Homo sapiens: one gene and its partners. The protein of the gene in region 1 purifies or fractionates together with the protein of each later gene. This does not show direct contact. Each region holds a gene or a part of one and is shown in the gene's direction. Other genes may lie near its edges.

Region 1 (4,359 bases):
GTAGAGGTTGCAGTGAGCTGTGACTGCACCACTGCACTCCAGCCTAGGTGACAGAGTGAGACCCTGTCTCAAAAAAAAGGGGGGGGGGATACCAGTCTTAACTGGATGAGGTACAATGTGACTTCATTTTACCTTAATCACCCTTTAAAGACCCTGTCTCCAAAGACAGTCACCTTATGAGATACTGAGTGTTAGGACTTAAACATATGCGTTTGGTTGCGGGGGGACATGATTCAGTCATATCAAGGTGGGGAATGGAGTGGTGTAACTGCTGATGGGTGTGCGTCTCCTTTTTGGGGTGGTTAAAATGTTCTGGAATTAGTGGCAATTAATGTGCATCTCTGTGAATATACTAAAAACCACTGAATTGCCCAGCCAGAAAGGATAAACTTTTGCCCTGGGGCAGGAAGAAGGCTGGCATGCAGAGAGAGGAGAAAGGGGGGCTGGATGAGCTGGCCTGCTAGCGGGGGCCCCAATACTACATAAGACCTTGCCCTTCTCCACAGTATCTGGTGTTAAATCTCATTATGAGGACCCTTTCAGCCCGGGGTTGGGATTGGAAGTGAGACATTGAAACTTCAAGGGCTGGGTTCTGGCCCGGGTGGGGATTTGCCATGGAGCAAAATAGCCTCTTGCAGCACATGCGGGGTTTCCTGTGCCGGGCACTGTCCTAAGTCCTTCTCAACTCTTTCGTCATTGAGTTCTCATAGCAGTCCAGTGAGCCAGGTACCATTCCTCTCTTCAGTCCACGGTGCCAGGTCACTTGGCTAGGGTCCCACTGAGAGTTCGAAGGAAGCCAGGCTAGAGCTCAGGCCTCTCACCAGCTGGAGGTCTTTCCCAGACTCTCTAAGGTGAGAGTTGGTGAATGGTGTCAGCCTGGGCCTGGATGAGTGACCCACGGTGCTCAGTGAATTTCAGGAACAGAGCCAGGGGATGCTGCGGTCAGGGGTGTCTTGATGGGGAAGAAGCAGGGCTGGGCGCTCACCTGGCTTCCCCGGACCTGCAGGTCCAGCCTCGCTCTCCTTCCCCCGAGCACCTCTAGCCCAAGGCCTGCCCACTTGCTGGAGCTGGCCCCTTGGCAAGGCTGCTGGGAGGGCCCGTGCTGCCAGGGCGGTCAGGGTCAGTGTCAGAGGTGCCTAAGGGACGCCCAAGGGGGTGCCCAGGTGGCAAGGTGCCTGTATGCTCAGGGAAGCCACGTCCCAGCTCGCGGGTGGGTGCAGCAGAGGCCCACGTGACCTTGCTGCTGACATTCCTCAGAGGCCATGTGGCCCCAACTGGCAGCGACAGCTGCAGACGGGCTGAACCAGCTTTGTTCCCAGGGTGGCGCCTGCTCTCCATCCAGGCCCCATTCCGGCTCCCACCCGACGCTGCTTTTGTTCCCACGTTTCGGGGGGCAGCTGGCACTGTGATTCCTGCCCCATGAGTGCCTAGAGGCACGGAGCCACCAGGGATCACCCCACGTGGGACACAGGGCTTGGGGAGGATGGGGCAGGACCAGACCAAGCAGCAGATCGAGAAGGGGCTCCAGCTGTACCAGTCCAACCAGACAGAGAAGGCATTGCAGGTGTGGACAAAGGTGCTGGAGAAGAGCTCGGACCTCATGGGGCGCTTCCGCGTGCTGGGCTGCCTGGTCACAGCCCACTCGGAGATGGGCCGCTACAAGGAGATGCTGAAGGTGGGTGTACCCGGCCTGGGGGCGTTCGAGGGTCAGGCTGGGGCCGGATGTCTCCCAGGCTCCCCAGTCCCCTCTCGGCCTCCTCGGGCTCCCCTGTGTCCCACAGGCTGGCAGCCAGGGCCCGAGGCTCTGAATTTATATCTAAGGCCCTGGGTCTTAGATACTGAGTCTTGGCATCAGATTCAGGCCTGTGGCCTTGAACTGTGGTGCCCGAGTCTCTGAGACTGAGGTTCTCCAGCCTCAGGGTCGAGGGTTTGTGGGTCTCAAGCCCATTGTAGGTTTCAGCCTTCCTGTCTGGTGTTCTGTGTCTGAGCCTGGCGGGGTGTGGGCTCCAGGGTTGCGGCTGGGGGTGGGTGGGTGGTGGAGACTCCAGATCTGAGGCTTGGGATAGAAGGTGAAGGCTGCAAGCCTGAGCTTGGGAGGTGAGGCTGGGGTGTAGGGAAGGTAGCTGAGGCTGGCGGGTAGAAGCTCTGGGTCTGAAAAGAAGCTTTGGGATCTGCTGCTTTGGGTGTGAGGCTGGGGGGTGGGTGTGGGGCCTCCAGGTCTGAGCCTGCAGTGCAGGCTGGGGTCCAAGGCTCAGAGTCCAGGCTGAGCACCACCTGCCCACCGTCGCTGTGTGCAGTTCGCTGTGGTCCAGATCGACACGGCCCGGGAGCTGGAGGATGCCGACTTCCTCCTGGAGAGCTACCTGAACCTGGCACGCAGCAACGAGAAGCTGTGCGAGTTTCACAAGACCATCTCCTACTGCAAGACCTGCCTTGGGCTGCCTGGTACCAGGGCAGGTGCCCAGCTCGGAGGCCAGGTCAGCCTGAGCATGGGCAATGCCTTCCTGGGCCTCAGCGTCTTCCAGAAGGCCCTGGAGAGCTTCGAGAAGGCCCTGCGCTATGCCCACAACAATGATGACGCCATGCTCGAGTGCCGCGTGTGCTGCAGCCTGGGCAGCTTCTATGCCCAGGTCAAGGTGGGCCTGCACCCCAGGGGGACAGCAGTGGAGGGTTTTGGGGCTCCCCTCTCATGAGGCACACACCCTGTGGCACTACCTCATTCAGCCCTCCTTTTAGGGAGGGCTGAGGAGAGTGAGAATCAGAGAGCAAAAAGGCTTATCCAGGAAGGTAACAACTTGGCCAGGAAGCCAGCAAGGGCAGAGCCAGGATTCAAACCTTGATCTGTGTGACTTCCTGGAGGAATAATGGGAGGCTCCTCTGTGAGGACAGGCCAGCGGCCTGCACTGCCATGTTTGCTGTGTGGTCTTGGGCAAGTCACCTATCCTCTCTGAACCTTGGGAGAGATCTGTAAAATGAAGGAGAATAGGACTCACCTTACAGTGGGGTTGTATGGAGTCAGTCATCAAATATTTATTGACCAGCTACTGTATCCCAAGACTGTTGACCCAGGGTGTAGCAGTGAGAAAAACAGCCAAGTCCCCGTCCTCACGAGGGTTGCATTCTAGTTGGAGAAGAAAGACGATCAACACAGTCAGGAAGTCAAGTGGTTAGGAGAAAGCGAAGCGGGGCAAAGGGCTGGCAGCACTGGGCGTGGGGGTGTCATAATTTCAAATATAGTGGTCGGAGGGCCTCGCAGAGGTGATGTTTGATGGCTTGAAGAAGAGAGGGTGTGCCATGCAAAAATCTGGTGAGAGAGCATTCTAGGCAAAAATGGGCGAGCCCCTAAAGCCAAGCTGGACCCTGGGGGAGCATCCTGGAATGTTTCCTGGAATGTTCCAGGAAGGACAGAGGCCAGCATGGCTGCCAGGCGTGTCTCAGGTGTGTGCGGAGGTAGGGAGGTGAGAGGAGGAGGGCCAACTGTGAAGGAACTGATAGGATCAGCCACAGCAGGTTCTGATCCTGGGTATTTTTTGGCGGGGGCAGGGGCGGAGTTTTGCTCTTGTCACCCAGGCTGGAGTGCAGTGGTGCCATCTCGGCTCACTGCAACCTCCGCCTCCTGGGTTCAAGCGATTCTCCTGCCCCAGCCTCCCAAGTAGCTGGGACTACAGGCGTATACCACCACGCCCGGCTAATTTTTGTGTTTTTAGTAGAAATGGGGTTTCACCATGTTGGCCAGGCTGGTCTTGAACTCCTGACCTCAGGGATCCGCCCGTCTTGGCCTCCCAAAGTGCTGGGATTACAGGCGTGAGCCACCGCACCCGGCCAACCCTGGGTATTTTTGTTCCCTTTCCCCTCAGGTATCTGTGCTGTGCTTGGTCCATGGGGGATTTAATGCCTGGCCCCAGTAGATGCTTAATAAATCTTGGAGTTAGTGAGTGGATAAATGCTGATGGATCCAAGGTGGGATGGGAGGAAACGAGTCACCAAGGATGACAGCCAGGACTTTGTTTTTAGGAAGCAGATGTAAGGGGGAGCCATTCAGTGAGATGAGATAGGACTGGGGCAGGACAGGGGTTTTTAAAAACCTTTTTAATTCTGAAGAAAAGTAAGCTAGGCCTGGTGGCTCACACTTGTAATCCCAGCACTTTGAGAAGCTGAGGGGTGAGGATCGCTCAAGACCAGGAGTTCCAGACCAGCGTCTACAAACAGTTTTTTTTTTTTTTTAATTTGGCAAGGCTCATGCCTATAATCTGAGCACTTTGAGAGGCCAAGCAGAAGGATTGCTTGAGCCCAGGAGTTTGAGAGCAGCTTGAGTCGCATAGCAAGACCCCATCTGCACCAAACTTTAAAAATGAACCA
Region 2 (3,886 bases), on another chromosome or scaffold:
GCAGATATACTGGAGTGAGAGGGCATGGCACGTTTTGGGAATGATCCTTTAGCACCTAGCCTACAGTCTGAACCAGCTGGGACCTTGGTACTCATTGCCTGCAAGCTGCCCCCTCTCTGCCCCCGAAAAGGGACCCCTTTCATAGCAACCTGGACGGGTGTGTAATTAGCCTGTAATGGCATCAGCGGGTTTGCCGTGTTATGAGTCTGCTCATTCTGCTGTTCTTCAGACTGAGCTTGGGAACTGGGCCTCGAGCCAGCCTGCTTGTGAGCAAGTTCTAGTTCCACCATTCTCAAGCCAGCTGACTTTGGTCAACCTACTTGACCACAGTGTCTCAGTCGCCTCACCCATAAAACCAGCTCACCTGCTCAGTGCTCAATAAGTGTTGTAATTGGCAGTGTTACTGTTTTCTATGGTTGTAGTTCAAGATGTTTATTCTAGCCTCTGTAATGTCTTTGTTTTTTTTTTTTTGAGACGGAGTCTCACTCTGTCGCCCAGGCTGGAATGCAGTGGCACAATACCGGCTCACTGCAACCTCCACCTCCCAGTTTTAAGCGATTCTCCTGCCTCAGCCTCCCGATTAGCTGGGATTACAGGCACCTGCCCCCATGTCTGGCTAATTTCTGTATTTTTAGTAGAGACGGGGGTTTCACCATGTTAGCTGAGTGTGGTGAAGCGCGCCTGTAGTTCCAGCTACTCGGGAGGCTGAGGCAGGAGAATCGCTTGAACCTGGGCGACAGGTTGCAGTGAGCCGAGATCGCACCACTGCACTCCAGCCTGGCAACAGCGAGACACCGTCTCAAAAAAAAAAAAAAAAAGAGAAAATATCAGAGTACATTGTAACTGATGAGAAAAAGTATTGCATTGTTTCTTGGAACTTTGATACCAATTATGTGTATGCTAGGTCATGATGCAAAATGTATTTTACTGGATCAGCCAATAAAAGTTGAGAAGCACTTGTTCTGAGGTTTATTGACAAACTAGAGGGATCCCAAAGGTGACAATCAGGATGGGAATGAGACTGAGACCATAGCAAATGGAGAGCTGGTGGAAAGAATGGAGAAGGGTTTGGCAGGAACTCCGAGGACCTGATCGCTGTTATCAGTGATCTGCAGGTTGTCTCTGGGCAGAAGGAGTAGATGTGTTCTGAATGGCCCCAGGGATGGTAACTTTGGGGAGGCAGGTTTTCAGTTCACTAGAGGAAGAGAGTTACTGCTGTCAGAACTGTCCAGAGGAGATGAGCTGGGAAGCATCACTGATGTGTGTAACAGAAAGTGGCTGAGCGCTCTCAGAGACACTGGAGAATGGATTCAGGCTGTACAGAGGCACCTTTTTTTTTTTAAGATGGAGTCTTGCTCTGTTGCCCAGGCTGCAGTGCAGTGGTGATTTCAGCTCACTGCAACCTTTGCCTCCCAGGTTCAAGGAATTCTCCTGCCTCAGCCTCCTGAGTAGCTGGGACTACAGGTGCCCCTCACTACGCCAGGCTAATTTTTTTGTTTTTAGTAGAGATGGGGTTTCATCATGTTACCCAGGCTGGTCTTGAGCTCCTGGGCTCAAGCAATCCTACTGCCTTGGGCTCCCGAAGTGCTGGGATTACAGGCGTAAGCCAACGCATCTGGCACAAAGGCACATATTTTAAGAGATTTGTAGGTCCCACACATAAGAGAGCTTATGCAGATCTGGGGTGATCAGCGCCCTCCACCCTTAATAGTCTCCAGTGGCCCCATGGTGCCCTTACTGTAATATCTGAGCTCTTCATCCTGGGTCTGCCAGGCTCTTTTTATTCTGACCTCTAGCCCTGTCTTCATCACCTGCCCTGTTCCTTTCCAGCCACACCAGGCAGGTCATAGTTCTCACTATCTGCCATACAGTCTTTATGTATGCTGACAGTCTGTCTCCTCTACCTGAGATTGCCTCTCCCTCGCCATATACTTTCAAACTCCTAGTTACCCATTAAAGCACAGTTTAAGGGTTGTTTTTTTCTGGGCCATTTCCCCTAACGCCCCTCCCTGTCTCGGACTTCTCATCCCTGGAGTGTCTGTTGGCCCATGGTATAGTGGTTAATTGTGGCATCTGGAATCAGTCCAGGATTCAAATTCAAGCTCCATCGTGTACTAACCATATGCCTTAAAAAAAATAACCTCTCTGTTCGTCACCAGCAAAAAGGTAGTACCTACCTTTAGAGTTGTTGTGGAAAATATAAGTTGATCCATGTGAAGGGCTTAGAACTCTGCCTGGTGCTCACTAACATTGGCTGTTGTAAATAGTTTATACTCTTAGTTCTCGTATCGTAATTGTCACACCTATTACATTGCTGCTGTTGGTTTACAGATCTGTCTTCTAGGCTGTGAGGTTTTTGAAGGGAAAGGACTGTGTGCCCTATTCATCTTTGTATCCACAGAGCCAAACACAGGATCAGGTATTTATATAATAATTATATATTATATAAATATATATATATAAATATATATAAATATATATATATTTTTTCTTTTTGAGACAGGGTCTTCATCTACCACCCAGGCTAGAGTGCAGTAGTGTGATCACAGCTCACTGCAGCCTTGACCTCCTAGGTTCAAGCGGTCCTCCCACCTCAGCCTCCTGGGTAGCAAACCTGAACATTTCTTTTCTTAAGACAGTCAGTTTTTGAGTGTTAGGAAATTACATAATTATTTGGTGAAGCTGTTCACAAAGCTGTGGTAATTTTTTTCTTAGCCAAAATTATTTGTTTTTGTTTTATTCGAAAATCCCTTTTATCATATTCATTAACTATTGATGAATCAATAGAATCTATTAAAAATAGCAAAAATGGCCTGGCACAGTGGCTTATGCCGATAAATCCAGCAGTCTGGGAGGCCAAGGCAGGAGGATTGCTTGACCCCAGGAGTTTGAGACCAGTCTGGGTAACATAGTGAGACTTTGTTTCTACAAAAAAATAAAAAACTAGCTGAGCATGTCCCAGCCACTCAGGAGGCTGAGGTGGGAGGACCGCTTGAACCTAGGAGGTCAAGGCTGCAGTGAGCTGTGATCACGCTACTGCACTCTAGCCTGGGTGGTAGATGAAGACCCTGTCTCAAAAAGAAAAAAAAAAAAGATAGCAAAAATGTCAGTATTTTTATAGCCTTGGTTATATAGAATTTTTATTAGCAATACACAGCAGGAGTTGTGTGGGAAGTTGGAGGTGCAGGGAGTGCTTGATTTGTGGAAGTTTTGGTGGAAGTGGGACTTGAGTGCTACCTTGAGATTCAGAGGGAGTGAGTCTCACTTCTAGAGTTGATAGGAGTTCACCTGGACAAAAGGAGCGGAAAGCAGCTTTTATAGATGGAGGAAAGTAATGGAGCTAAGAGGTTTTAAGCATTTGGTCTTCAGATGGTAAGGAACCCGAGGGGTTATCTGGTCAAAGGAAGGGGAAGGGAGTTGTGGTGAAGAACATGAACCCTGAAGCCTTGGATGCAAACACTAGCTGTGTGACCTCAGGCAAGGTACCTGACCTCTCTGTACAACTATAAGACGGGGAGGTTAATAGTACTGTTACTGTTATGAGGAATAAATGACATTATAGTATATAAAATGCTCTGCTCGGTGCCTGGCATTTAACGAGTGCCCAAATATTGATTCATAGTTTCCAAGTCTGTGTGTCGTTCCCAACTGAATGAATGATAGCTGTGCTAATCTCCTCAGACCTTGAGTCTTACAAATATCATTATTTTCTCAGTATGCTATAATGTGAACAATTTGGGAAGTAGCTATTATCTGGTAGTGTAGCGTTCCCACCGCAGGGCCTCAGGGAAGATGAGGCTCTGCTCTGTGCCACCTCCTTCTTCCCCCACCTGCTCCACTTTTTTTTTTGAGATGGAGTCTCGCTCTGTCGCCCAGGCTGGACTGC
Region 3 (3,886 bases), on another chromosome or scaffold:
TCTTGTCTTAGCCTCCCAAAGTGTTGGAATTACAGGTGTGAGCTATGGCACCCAGCCCTGTTCAAGCTTCTTTCTTTCCTTTATTATTATTATTATTATTATTATTATTATTATTATTTTTATTTTTTCCAGACAGGGTCTTGTTCTGTTCCCAAGCTGGAGTGCAGTAGTTTGATCATGGTCACTGCAGCTTCGAGCTCCTGGGCTCAAGCATTCCTCCCACCTCAACCTTCCAAGTAGCTAAGGCTACAGGCACAGGCCACAATGCCCAGCTAATTTTTAAATTTTTTTGTAGACAGGATCTCTCTATGTTGCCCAGGCTGGTCTTGAACTCCTGGCCTCAAGCCATCCCCCTGCCTCGCCTTGCCAAAGTGCTTGGGATTATAGGTGTTAGCCACCACACCCAGTTATTTCTTTTAACAGGTCAAGAATTATTTGATGCCCCAATTCTGATATGAACTCATGACTGATTCTGCTGCTCCTGCTAGTTCTTTCTGATGGTGCTTTGTTTTTTTGTGTGTATTTTATGGTTTAAATTATGAACTTATTCTTTGGATGTTTATATATGCCAGATGCTTGGTATCAATTCTAATTTAAGACCACTTAAAATTCTTGACCCAAGGTCTTTGGAACCATTTGATAGAATTTGGGCTATAAACCCATGAGGACTGGTTTGTGGTTATGGCTTTTTGTGTTATTTTGTGCCCCTAGGGCAGGGGGCTTTCACTGGGGTAATTTTTGTAATCCCCTAGGGAGGATTTCTAGCCTACCCATGCATTGAGAGTATATTAGGGTCTTGGTTTTATGAGGAATCTTCTGTTAATTATCCCACCTTCACTAGGCCTTTGTCCAATAATGCTGTGGACCTTAAGCTTAGATTTTTACCTGCTTGGGCAAATACCCTCATGGTGAAAAGCCTTCTTTAGTGCTTCCAGTCACCAGTTCCTCTTCGTCTTGGTTTTTACCTTCTTGCTGGCTTATCAAGGCTTTTTTTTTTTTTTTTTTTTTTTTTTTTGAGACAAAGCCTCACTCTGTTGTGAGGCTGGAGTGCAGTGGCGCGATCTCAGCTCACTGCAACCCTACCTCCTGGGTTTAAGCAATTCTCATGCCTCAGCCTCCCAAGTAGTTGGGATTACAGGTGCCAGCCACCACGCCCAGCTAATTTTTGCATTTTTAGTAGAGACGGGGTTTCAACATGTTGACCAGGCTGGTCTTGGACTACTGACCTCAAGTGATCCACCCGCCTCGACCCCCGCAAAGTGCTCAGATTACAGGCGTGAGCCACTGCACCCAGCCTGTATCAGTCATTTTAAATTATTTTCATGTGGAGTATAAATCAGAGTAATGAATCCAGCACATGGCTAAAACTTCCCGTATCATTTTACTAAGTCATTTCTAGTCATTTTGGAAAGGACATATGAGGTTAAATGAGCACCTGAAACATTCATAAAAATGAAATCAAGAGTGGCCTTTACAACTGGTAACTAAAGATATTTCTTTTTTTTATAGGTGTCAGCTGTGATGCATGTTTAAAAGGAAATTTTCGAGGTCGCAGATATAAGTGTTTAATTTGCTACGATTACGATCTTTGTGCATCTTGTTATGAAAGTGGTGCAACAACAACAAGGCATACAACTGACCACCCAATGCAGTGCATATTAACAAGGGTAGATTTTGGTAAGTAATTAAAAATTTAATGAATTACATCATTTAGAATTTTATGTACGTTGAAGAAGTAAAGGCAAAGTGTTCTAAAACTCCCCAGCAGCATACCATAAGCCCCAAATTCATTAAACATGAAATAAATCTTACTTTTTTTTGAGACGGAGTTTCGCTCTTGTTGCCCAGGCTGGAGTGCAATGGCGCGATCTTGGCTCACTGCAACCTCCACCTCCCTGGTTCAAGCAATTCCCCTGCCTCAGCCACCCGAGTAGCTGGGATTACAGGTGCACACCACCACGCCTGGCTAATTTTTTTGTATTTTTAGTAGAGACAGGGTTTCACCACGTTGGCCAGACTGGTCTCGAACTCCTGACCTCAGTCAATCTGCCCGACTCAGCCGCCCAAAGTGCTGGGATTATAGGCGTGAGCCACTGTGCCTGGCTTTTTTTTTTTTTTTTTTTTTTTTTTTGAGGAGTCTTACCCTGTCGCCTAGGCTGGAGTGCAATGTCGTGATCTCAGCTCGCTGCAACCTCCACCCCCCAGGTTCAAGCGATTCTCCTGCCTCAGCCTCCCAAGGAGCTGGGATTACAGGCGTGCACCACCATGCCCGGCTGATTTTTTGTATCTTTAGTAGAGATAGGGTTTCACCATGTTAACCAGGCTGGTCTTGAACTCCTAACCTAATGATACACCTGCCTCGGCCTCCAAAGTGCTGGGATTACAGGCGTAAGCCACCGCGCCCGGCCTTACTTTTTACGTACTAAGTAATTCTGTCTGTTCATCTTAATCATAGTTTACTTGTTTAAAAAAACCATTCAGAAATATACACAACTGACAAGGAATGAAATAGAAGAGTGCTTCAGTAAAGAAGAAATATGCTCTGTCTTTTGTTCGTGCTATTAACACACAAATAATAGCTTTATTTTATTTTATTTTTTATTTTTTTAAGACAGAGTCTCACTCTGTCGCCCACGCTGGAATGCAGTGGCCGGATTTCGGCTCACTGCAACATCTGCCTCCTGGCTTCAAGCAATTCTCGTGCCTCAGCCTCTTGAGTAGCTGAGACTACAGGTGTGTGCCACCTTGCCCAGCTAATTTTTTTGTATTTTTAGTAGAGATGAAGTTTCACTATGTTGGCCAGGCTGGTCTTGACCTCAAGTTATCCACCTGCCTTCGCCTCCCAAAGTGCTGGGATTACAGACGTGAGCCACCATGCCCAGCAATAATAGCTTTTGTAGTGACCAGAAAACAGATTGTTGGCTGGTTATGGTGGCTAACGCCTGTAATCCCAGCCCTTTGGGAGGCTTAAGATGGTCAGATCACTTGAGCCCAGGAGTTTGAGATGAGCCTGGGCAACATGGCAAAAACCCTGTCTCTGCATCCACCCCCGAAAAATACAATAAATTAGCTGGATGTGGTGGCGCACATGCATCTGTAGCCCTAGCTACTTGGGAGGCTGAGATGGGAGGATCACTTGAGCCCAGGAGGTCAAGTGTGCAGTGAACCCTGATTGTGCCACTACATTCCGGCCTGGCCAACAAAGCAAGACGCTATCTCAAAAAAAAAAAAAGGCAGATTGTTTCTACAGTTGATTAGAAGACATTGTAAGAAAATATATAAATGTTTCATGCTATAATTTTTTTTTTTTTTTTTTTTGAGACAAGAGTTTCACTCTTGTCGCCTAGGCTGGAGTGCAATGGCGCCATCTCAGCTCACTGCAACCTCCACCTCCTGGGTTCAAGCGATTCTCCTGCCTCAGCCTCCTGAATAGCTGGGATTACAGGTGCCCGCCACCATGCCCAGAAAATTTTTTTTGTATTTTTAATAGAGACAGGGTTTCACCATGTTGGCCAGGCTGGTCTTGAACTCCTAATCTTAGGTGATCCACTTGCGGGCCTCCCAGAGTGCTGAGATTACAGACATGAGCCACCACGCCTGGCTTCGTGCTATAATTTCTTACCTAGCCCACACTTTTTGTCCTTTTTATTTCAGCCATCCTAGTAGGTGTAAAGTAGTATCTCAGGTGGTTTTGATTTATATTTCTCTGAAATATAAATTATGTTGAGCATCTTTTCTTGTGCTTATGGGCCATTTGTATATCTACTTTGAAGAAATACCTTGATCCTTTGCCCATTTTTTAATTGGATAATGTGTCTTTGTTATTGAATTGTAATAGTTTTTTATTCCTTATGTAAGTTTTTTTATCTGATAGATGATTTGCAAA
Region 4 (3,886 bases), on another chromosome or scaffold:
GGTACCTGCAGCAGCTCCCTCATTCTCACAGGCCCAACAGGTAACTAACAGGATAAAAAATAGAAAAGAAACATGGGAACTGAAAATTCTAATTCTTTTGCTTGTCTTATTGTGGGATAAAGCTTGTCCATTTCATAATCTATTATGAGGAATCATTAAAGAAAGTCATGATATATAGCTTTCAAATAAAAACTTGGTGTGGTTTTTATCAGACTTAAGAAGTTAACAAATTTCTAAATTTTTCTTTCAAGTTTAATGAACTAACATCATGATGTGTTAGGCCTGCCCAGTATGTATTTCTAGCAGTTTAGATACTCCTAATTAGTGATTTTCTCTTTGGGGCTAAAAACTTCCTAGGATCTTTAGCCAGATTTTATCGACCACTCCCCTTTTCTAATAATCCTGGTACGATATAGCGCCAAACCCTTCTCGAGGCCTCTGCTTTCTCTTTTGCTCTTCTTTACCTCAGCTAGTCCAGATTGCATGACTCATTCTTATGTACGAGTTTCTGCTTCTTTCTAGCCCAGTCTTTAATGTTTCCCCATCACCCCTTCCTTTTTCTTTCATCCATTTTGTTGTTCTAAACTATTTTAAATGGATGAATCTCATACATCTCTTGGTTAAATAAGCAGTTTTATAGTCATCAAGGAGTTACGGGACTGCATAGTTATATCAACTCTTCCCTTTCAGTAAAAGGATAAAACAATTATAAAAGCATTCTATGTATACGTGGAATCATTTCAAGTGCTTGCATGTTAAAGCAATATAATAAAGAATAAAATATTTAATTCTGTGTTTTTATACTAGGTCATTTGTGGTCAGAATTGTACCTTTGTCATCCAGGCCAATGGCACAGTGTTGGCTTGTGGGGAAGGAAGTTATGGCAGATTAGGACAAGGAAATTCAGATGACCTTCATGTGCTGACAGTTATTTCAGCCTTACAAGGTAAAATTGTCCTTAATAAAAAGATGGTTAGAACCTAAGGCCTAATGTAGGTTTGGTCGTACAAACCTTTGCCCTTCTCAAACCTTTGCTAGATAAAATCATATCAGGTTTTCACTTACATTTAAATCCTTATTTAGGCATGTGTGCAGCCTTAATTTCCATATTTTAAGCTATATTGCAGGTTACTTATAGCAATGCTAGAATTCAGTGAAATATAAATAACACTTTTTGAGACCCACTGAAGATTGTAAACAAATGCTTAAAAATTGCAAAAGTGTAAGTAGGCAGATGTTAATAGCAGTAGCAATCATGCATGTATTTCATTAAAATTAAAAATCAGTTTATATGGAAATCTGCAAATGTGCTAAAGACTTTAAAGGACATCTTCATCAGAGTTCTTTGTGACTTGGAGAGAGAACACCTTTGGAGAAACCACTGTACAAGCCCCCGGCTTGCTCATTAACTGAACTCATAATGACTCTGAAGCCTACAAAGAGAGCACCGACGGTTTTTTTAGGTAAAAGCATACAAGTAACTATGAGTTCAAAACAAGTTCCTAGAAGCTCAGGTTCTTTTCATTGTGATCTGAGTGTGAAGAGCACAGCAGTAAAGATGAGAATGTGTGCTGGGTTCCTATGGGTTCTACTGGTCCTTGGCTCTGGGACATTGCACAAGCTTCGAGACCTCTTTGTGACTCAGTTTTCCCACTTGTAAAAATGGGATGTTAGTATCTGTTTCATAGGTGCTATGTGAAAGTAGAAAATGAGATAATCCATGTAAAGCATTTATAGGAGTGGCTAGAGCATAGCCAGTCATTAATGACTGTAACTATTGCTGTCATCCTCGTTTTCCTTGTCATCACCATTATTTTAGGTGACTATTCGCAGTTTTGCTAGGTTATGGCTACAAATTCAATTTAAAACTAAAGAAATTAGGCCGGTTACTGTGGCTCATGCCTGTAAACCCAGCGCTTTGGGAGGCCGAGGTGGGCGGATCACTTGAGGTCAGGAGTTCATGACCAGCCTGGCCAGCATGGTAAAACCCTGTCTCTGTTAAAAATACAAAAATTAGCCAGATATGGTGGCACATGCCTGTAATCCCAGCTACTCAGGAGGCTGAGGCAAGAGAATCACTTGAACCGGGGAGGTGGAGGTTGCAGTGAGCCGAGATCACACCACTGCACTCCAGCCTGGATGACAGAGTGAGACTCCATCTAAAAAAAAAAAAAAAACTAATGAAATTATTCTTATTTTCATAGTACCAATTCGGTGGTTTTTGATTGAGGGTATTCAGTAGCAGCTGCAAGTAAAGAGGAGAGTTTTAACATCCAGTGACTCCTGTTGGGTTTCTGTTCTGTTCCAGGCTTTGTGGTGACCCAGCTGGTGACTTCCTGTGGTTCTGATGGGCACTCTATGGCCCTAACTGAAAGTGGTGAGGTCTTTAGCTGGGGAGATGGTGACTATGGTAAACTTGGCCATGGGAACAGCGACAGGCAGCGGCGGCCCAGGCAGATCGAGGCCTTACAAGGAGAAGAAGTGGTGCAGGTCAGGCAGGAAATGGATAAGTTTGCCTTTCATTGTAAATATACTAGTTGTTGAATAGGTTTCTTAAAATTAGGTAACAGAAAATATAGTAAAAATATATTACACAGTAATTATAAGAGATCCATTGGTTTTGGATGTTCAGATTCATTCTTGAGCTTGTCAGAAGTTTGAATAGGCTTTGGTGTTAGTATTGGTCTTGTTAGTATTGGTTAGAATGGTCTTTTTCGTGAGCCAGCTGGTTGGCCCAGACTAGGGTGCTGCACGCCCTTGGAAGGAATATTGTGTGGTTTAACTTCTGCCACACAGTTCTTAATACACAGATAAAAGGAAAACTTTGCTTTTAACCTATCATTTATGTTACAAAAGCTAAGTTAACATGCATTTTCTGGAAAATAGTGTTCTAAAATCATATTGTAAGATTGTATAGCACCTTATAGTTTACAAACAATTTCCCCATTTATTATCTCATTTAGTCTAGGTCATGTGTACACAGCTGAAGAGTAGCAGTAGTTACTCCAGGGTATGCTGTTCAGCTTGGGCTTCCTGAGGCTGTTGAGACAGATCAGACTTGGGAGAGCAGGAGAGCAACTTGGGCAGATAAATGTACCAGTTGGCCAGATGCAGTGGCTTATGCCTGTAATCCTAACACTTTGGGAGGCCAAGGCAAGAGGATTGCTTGAGGCCAGGAGTTTGAGACCAGCCTAGACAACATAGCAAGACCCTGTCTCTACAAAAAATAGAAATAAATAGCCAGGTGTGGTAGCACATGCCTGTAGTCCCAGCTACTTGGGAGGCTGAGGTGGGAGGATTGCTTGAGCCCAGGAGTTTGGGGCTGCAGTGAGCTGTGATCACACCACTGCACTCCAGCCTAGGTGACAGAGCAAGACACTGTCTCTTTAAAATTTAAAAAAAAATTAAAAAAAAAAATTTTTAAAAGCATTGGTCTTTGAAGATCCAGTTTTCAGTGAAGTTTATGTAAAGTTTATTGCTATATTAATACCAAAAATGGCAGATTTACTTTTTTCTTAGTTTCCCTTCTTAAAAATTTTCTTTCTCCTTGGTTCTGTCTTAGATGTCTTGTGGCTTCAAGCACTCAGCAGTGGTCACTTCAGATGGCAAACTGTTCACCTTTGGGAATGGTGACTATGGTCGTCTGGGTCTTGGAAATACCTCTAACAAAAAACTTCCAGAGAGAGTGACTGCACTGGAGGGATATCAGATTGGACAGGCATGGAATAAATCAATAAGATATTCTAGCTGATCATTGTTTCTCATTTCTTCTGTGTTCGCTTAGACACCCTCAGGAAGATCAGGATCACCAGTTGTACCTAACCTCATGTACATTTTGCTATGGTCTAATTGATAATTTTAACTGTTTCCCAATGTGAAATTCATA

Evidence for each region.
Region 2: the proteins of RAPSN (region 1) and ZZEF1 purify together in Homo sapiens (affinity purification with mass spectrometry; one large-scale study listed by BioGRID and IntAct). This does not show direct contact.
Region 3: the proteins of RAPSN (region 1) and KCMF1 purify together in Homo sapiens (affinity purification with mass spectrometry; one large-scale study listed by BioGRID and IntAct). This does not show direct contact.
Region 4: the proteins of RAPSN (region 1) and HERC1 purify together in Homo sapiens (affinity purification with mass spectrometry; 2 studies listed by BioGRID and IntAct, with this or other methods). This does not show direct contact.

Annotation. Positions count from the first base shown.
Region 1 is NC_000011.10:47,446,089-47,450,447, reverse strand, and holds the start of RAPSN (43 kDa receptor-associated protein of the synapse), read left to right. Parts: upstream 1-1,311; 5' UTR 1,312-1,483; coding exon 1,484-1,675; intron 1,676-2,297; coding exon 2,298-2,636; intron 2,637-3,010; exon of another isoform or gene 3,011-3,121; intron 3,122-4,359. UniProt on the Homo sapiens protein: Postsynaptic protein required for clustering of nicotinic acetylcholine receptors (nAChRs) at the neuromuscular junction. It may link the receptor to the underlying postsynaptic cytoskeleton, possibly by direct association with actin or spectrin.
Region 2 is NC_000017.11:4,132,929-4,136,814, reverse strand, and holds part of ZZEF1 (zinc finger ZZ-type and EF-hand domain-containing protein 1), read left to right. Parts: intron 1-3,886. UniProt on the Homo sapiens protein: Histone H3 reader which may act as a transcriptional coactivator for KLF6 and KLF9 transcription factors.
Region 3 is NC_000002.12:85,026,380-85,030,265, forward strand, and holds part of KCMF1 (E3 ubiquitin-protein ligase KCMF1), read left to right. Parts: intron 1-1,509; coding exon 1,510-1,677; intron 1,678-3,886. UniProt on the Homo sapiens protein: E3 ubiquitin-protein ligase which accepts ubiquitin from an E2 ubiquitin-conjugating enzyme and then transfers it to targeted substrates, promoting their degradation by the proteasome.
Region 4 is NC_000015.10:63,634,565-63,638,450, reverse strand, and holds part of HERC1 (probable E3 ubiquitin-protein ligase HERC1), read left to right. Parts: coding exon 1-40; intron 41-807; coding exon 808-946; intron 947-2,308; coding exon 2,309-2,490; intron 2,491-3,562; coding exon 3,563-3,718; intron 3,719-3,886. UniProt on the Homo sapiens protein: Involved in membrane trafficking via some guanine nucleotide exchange factor (GEF) activity and its ability to bind clathrin. Acts as a GEF for Arf and Rab, by exchanging bound GDP for free GTP.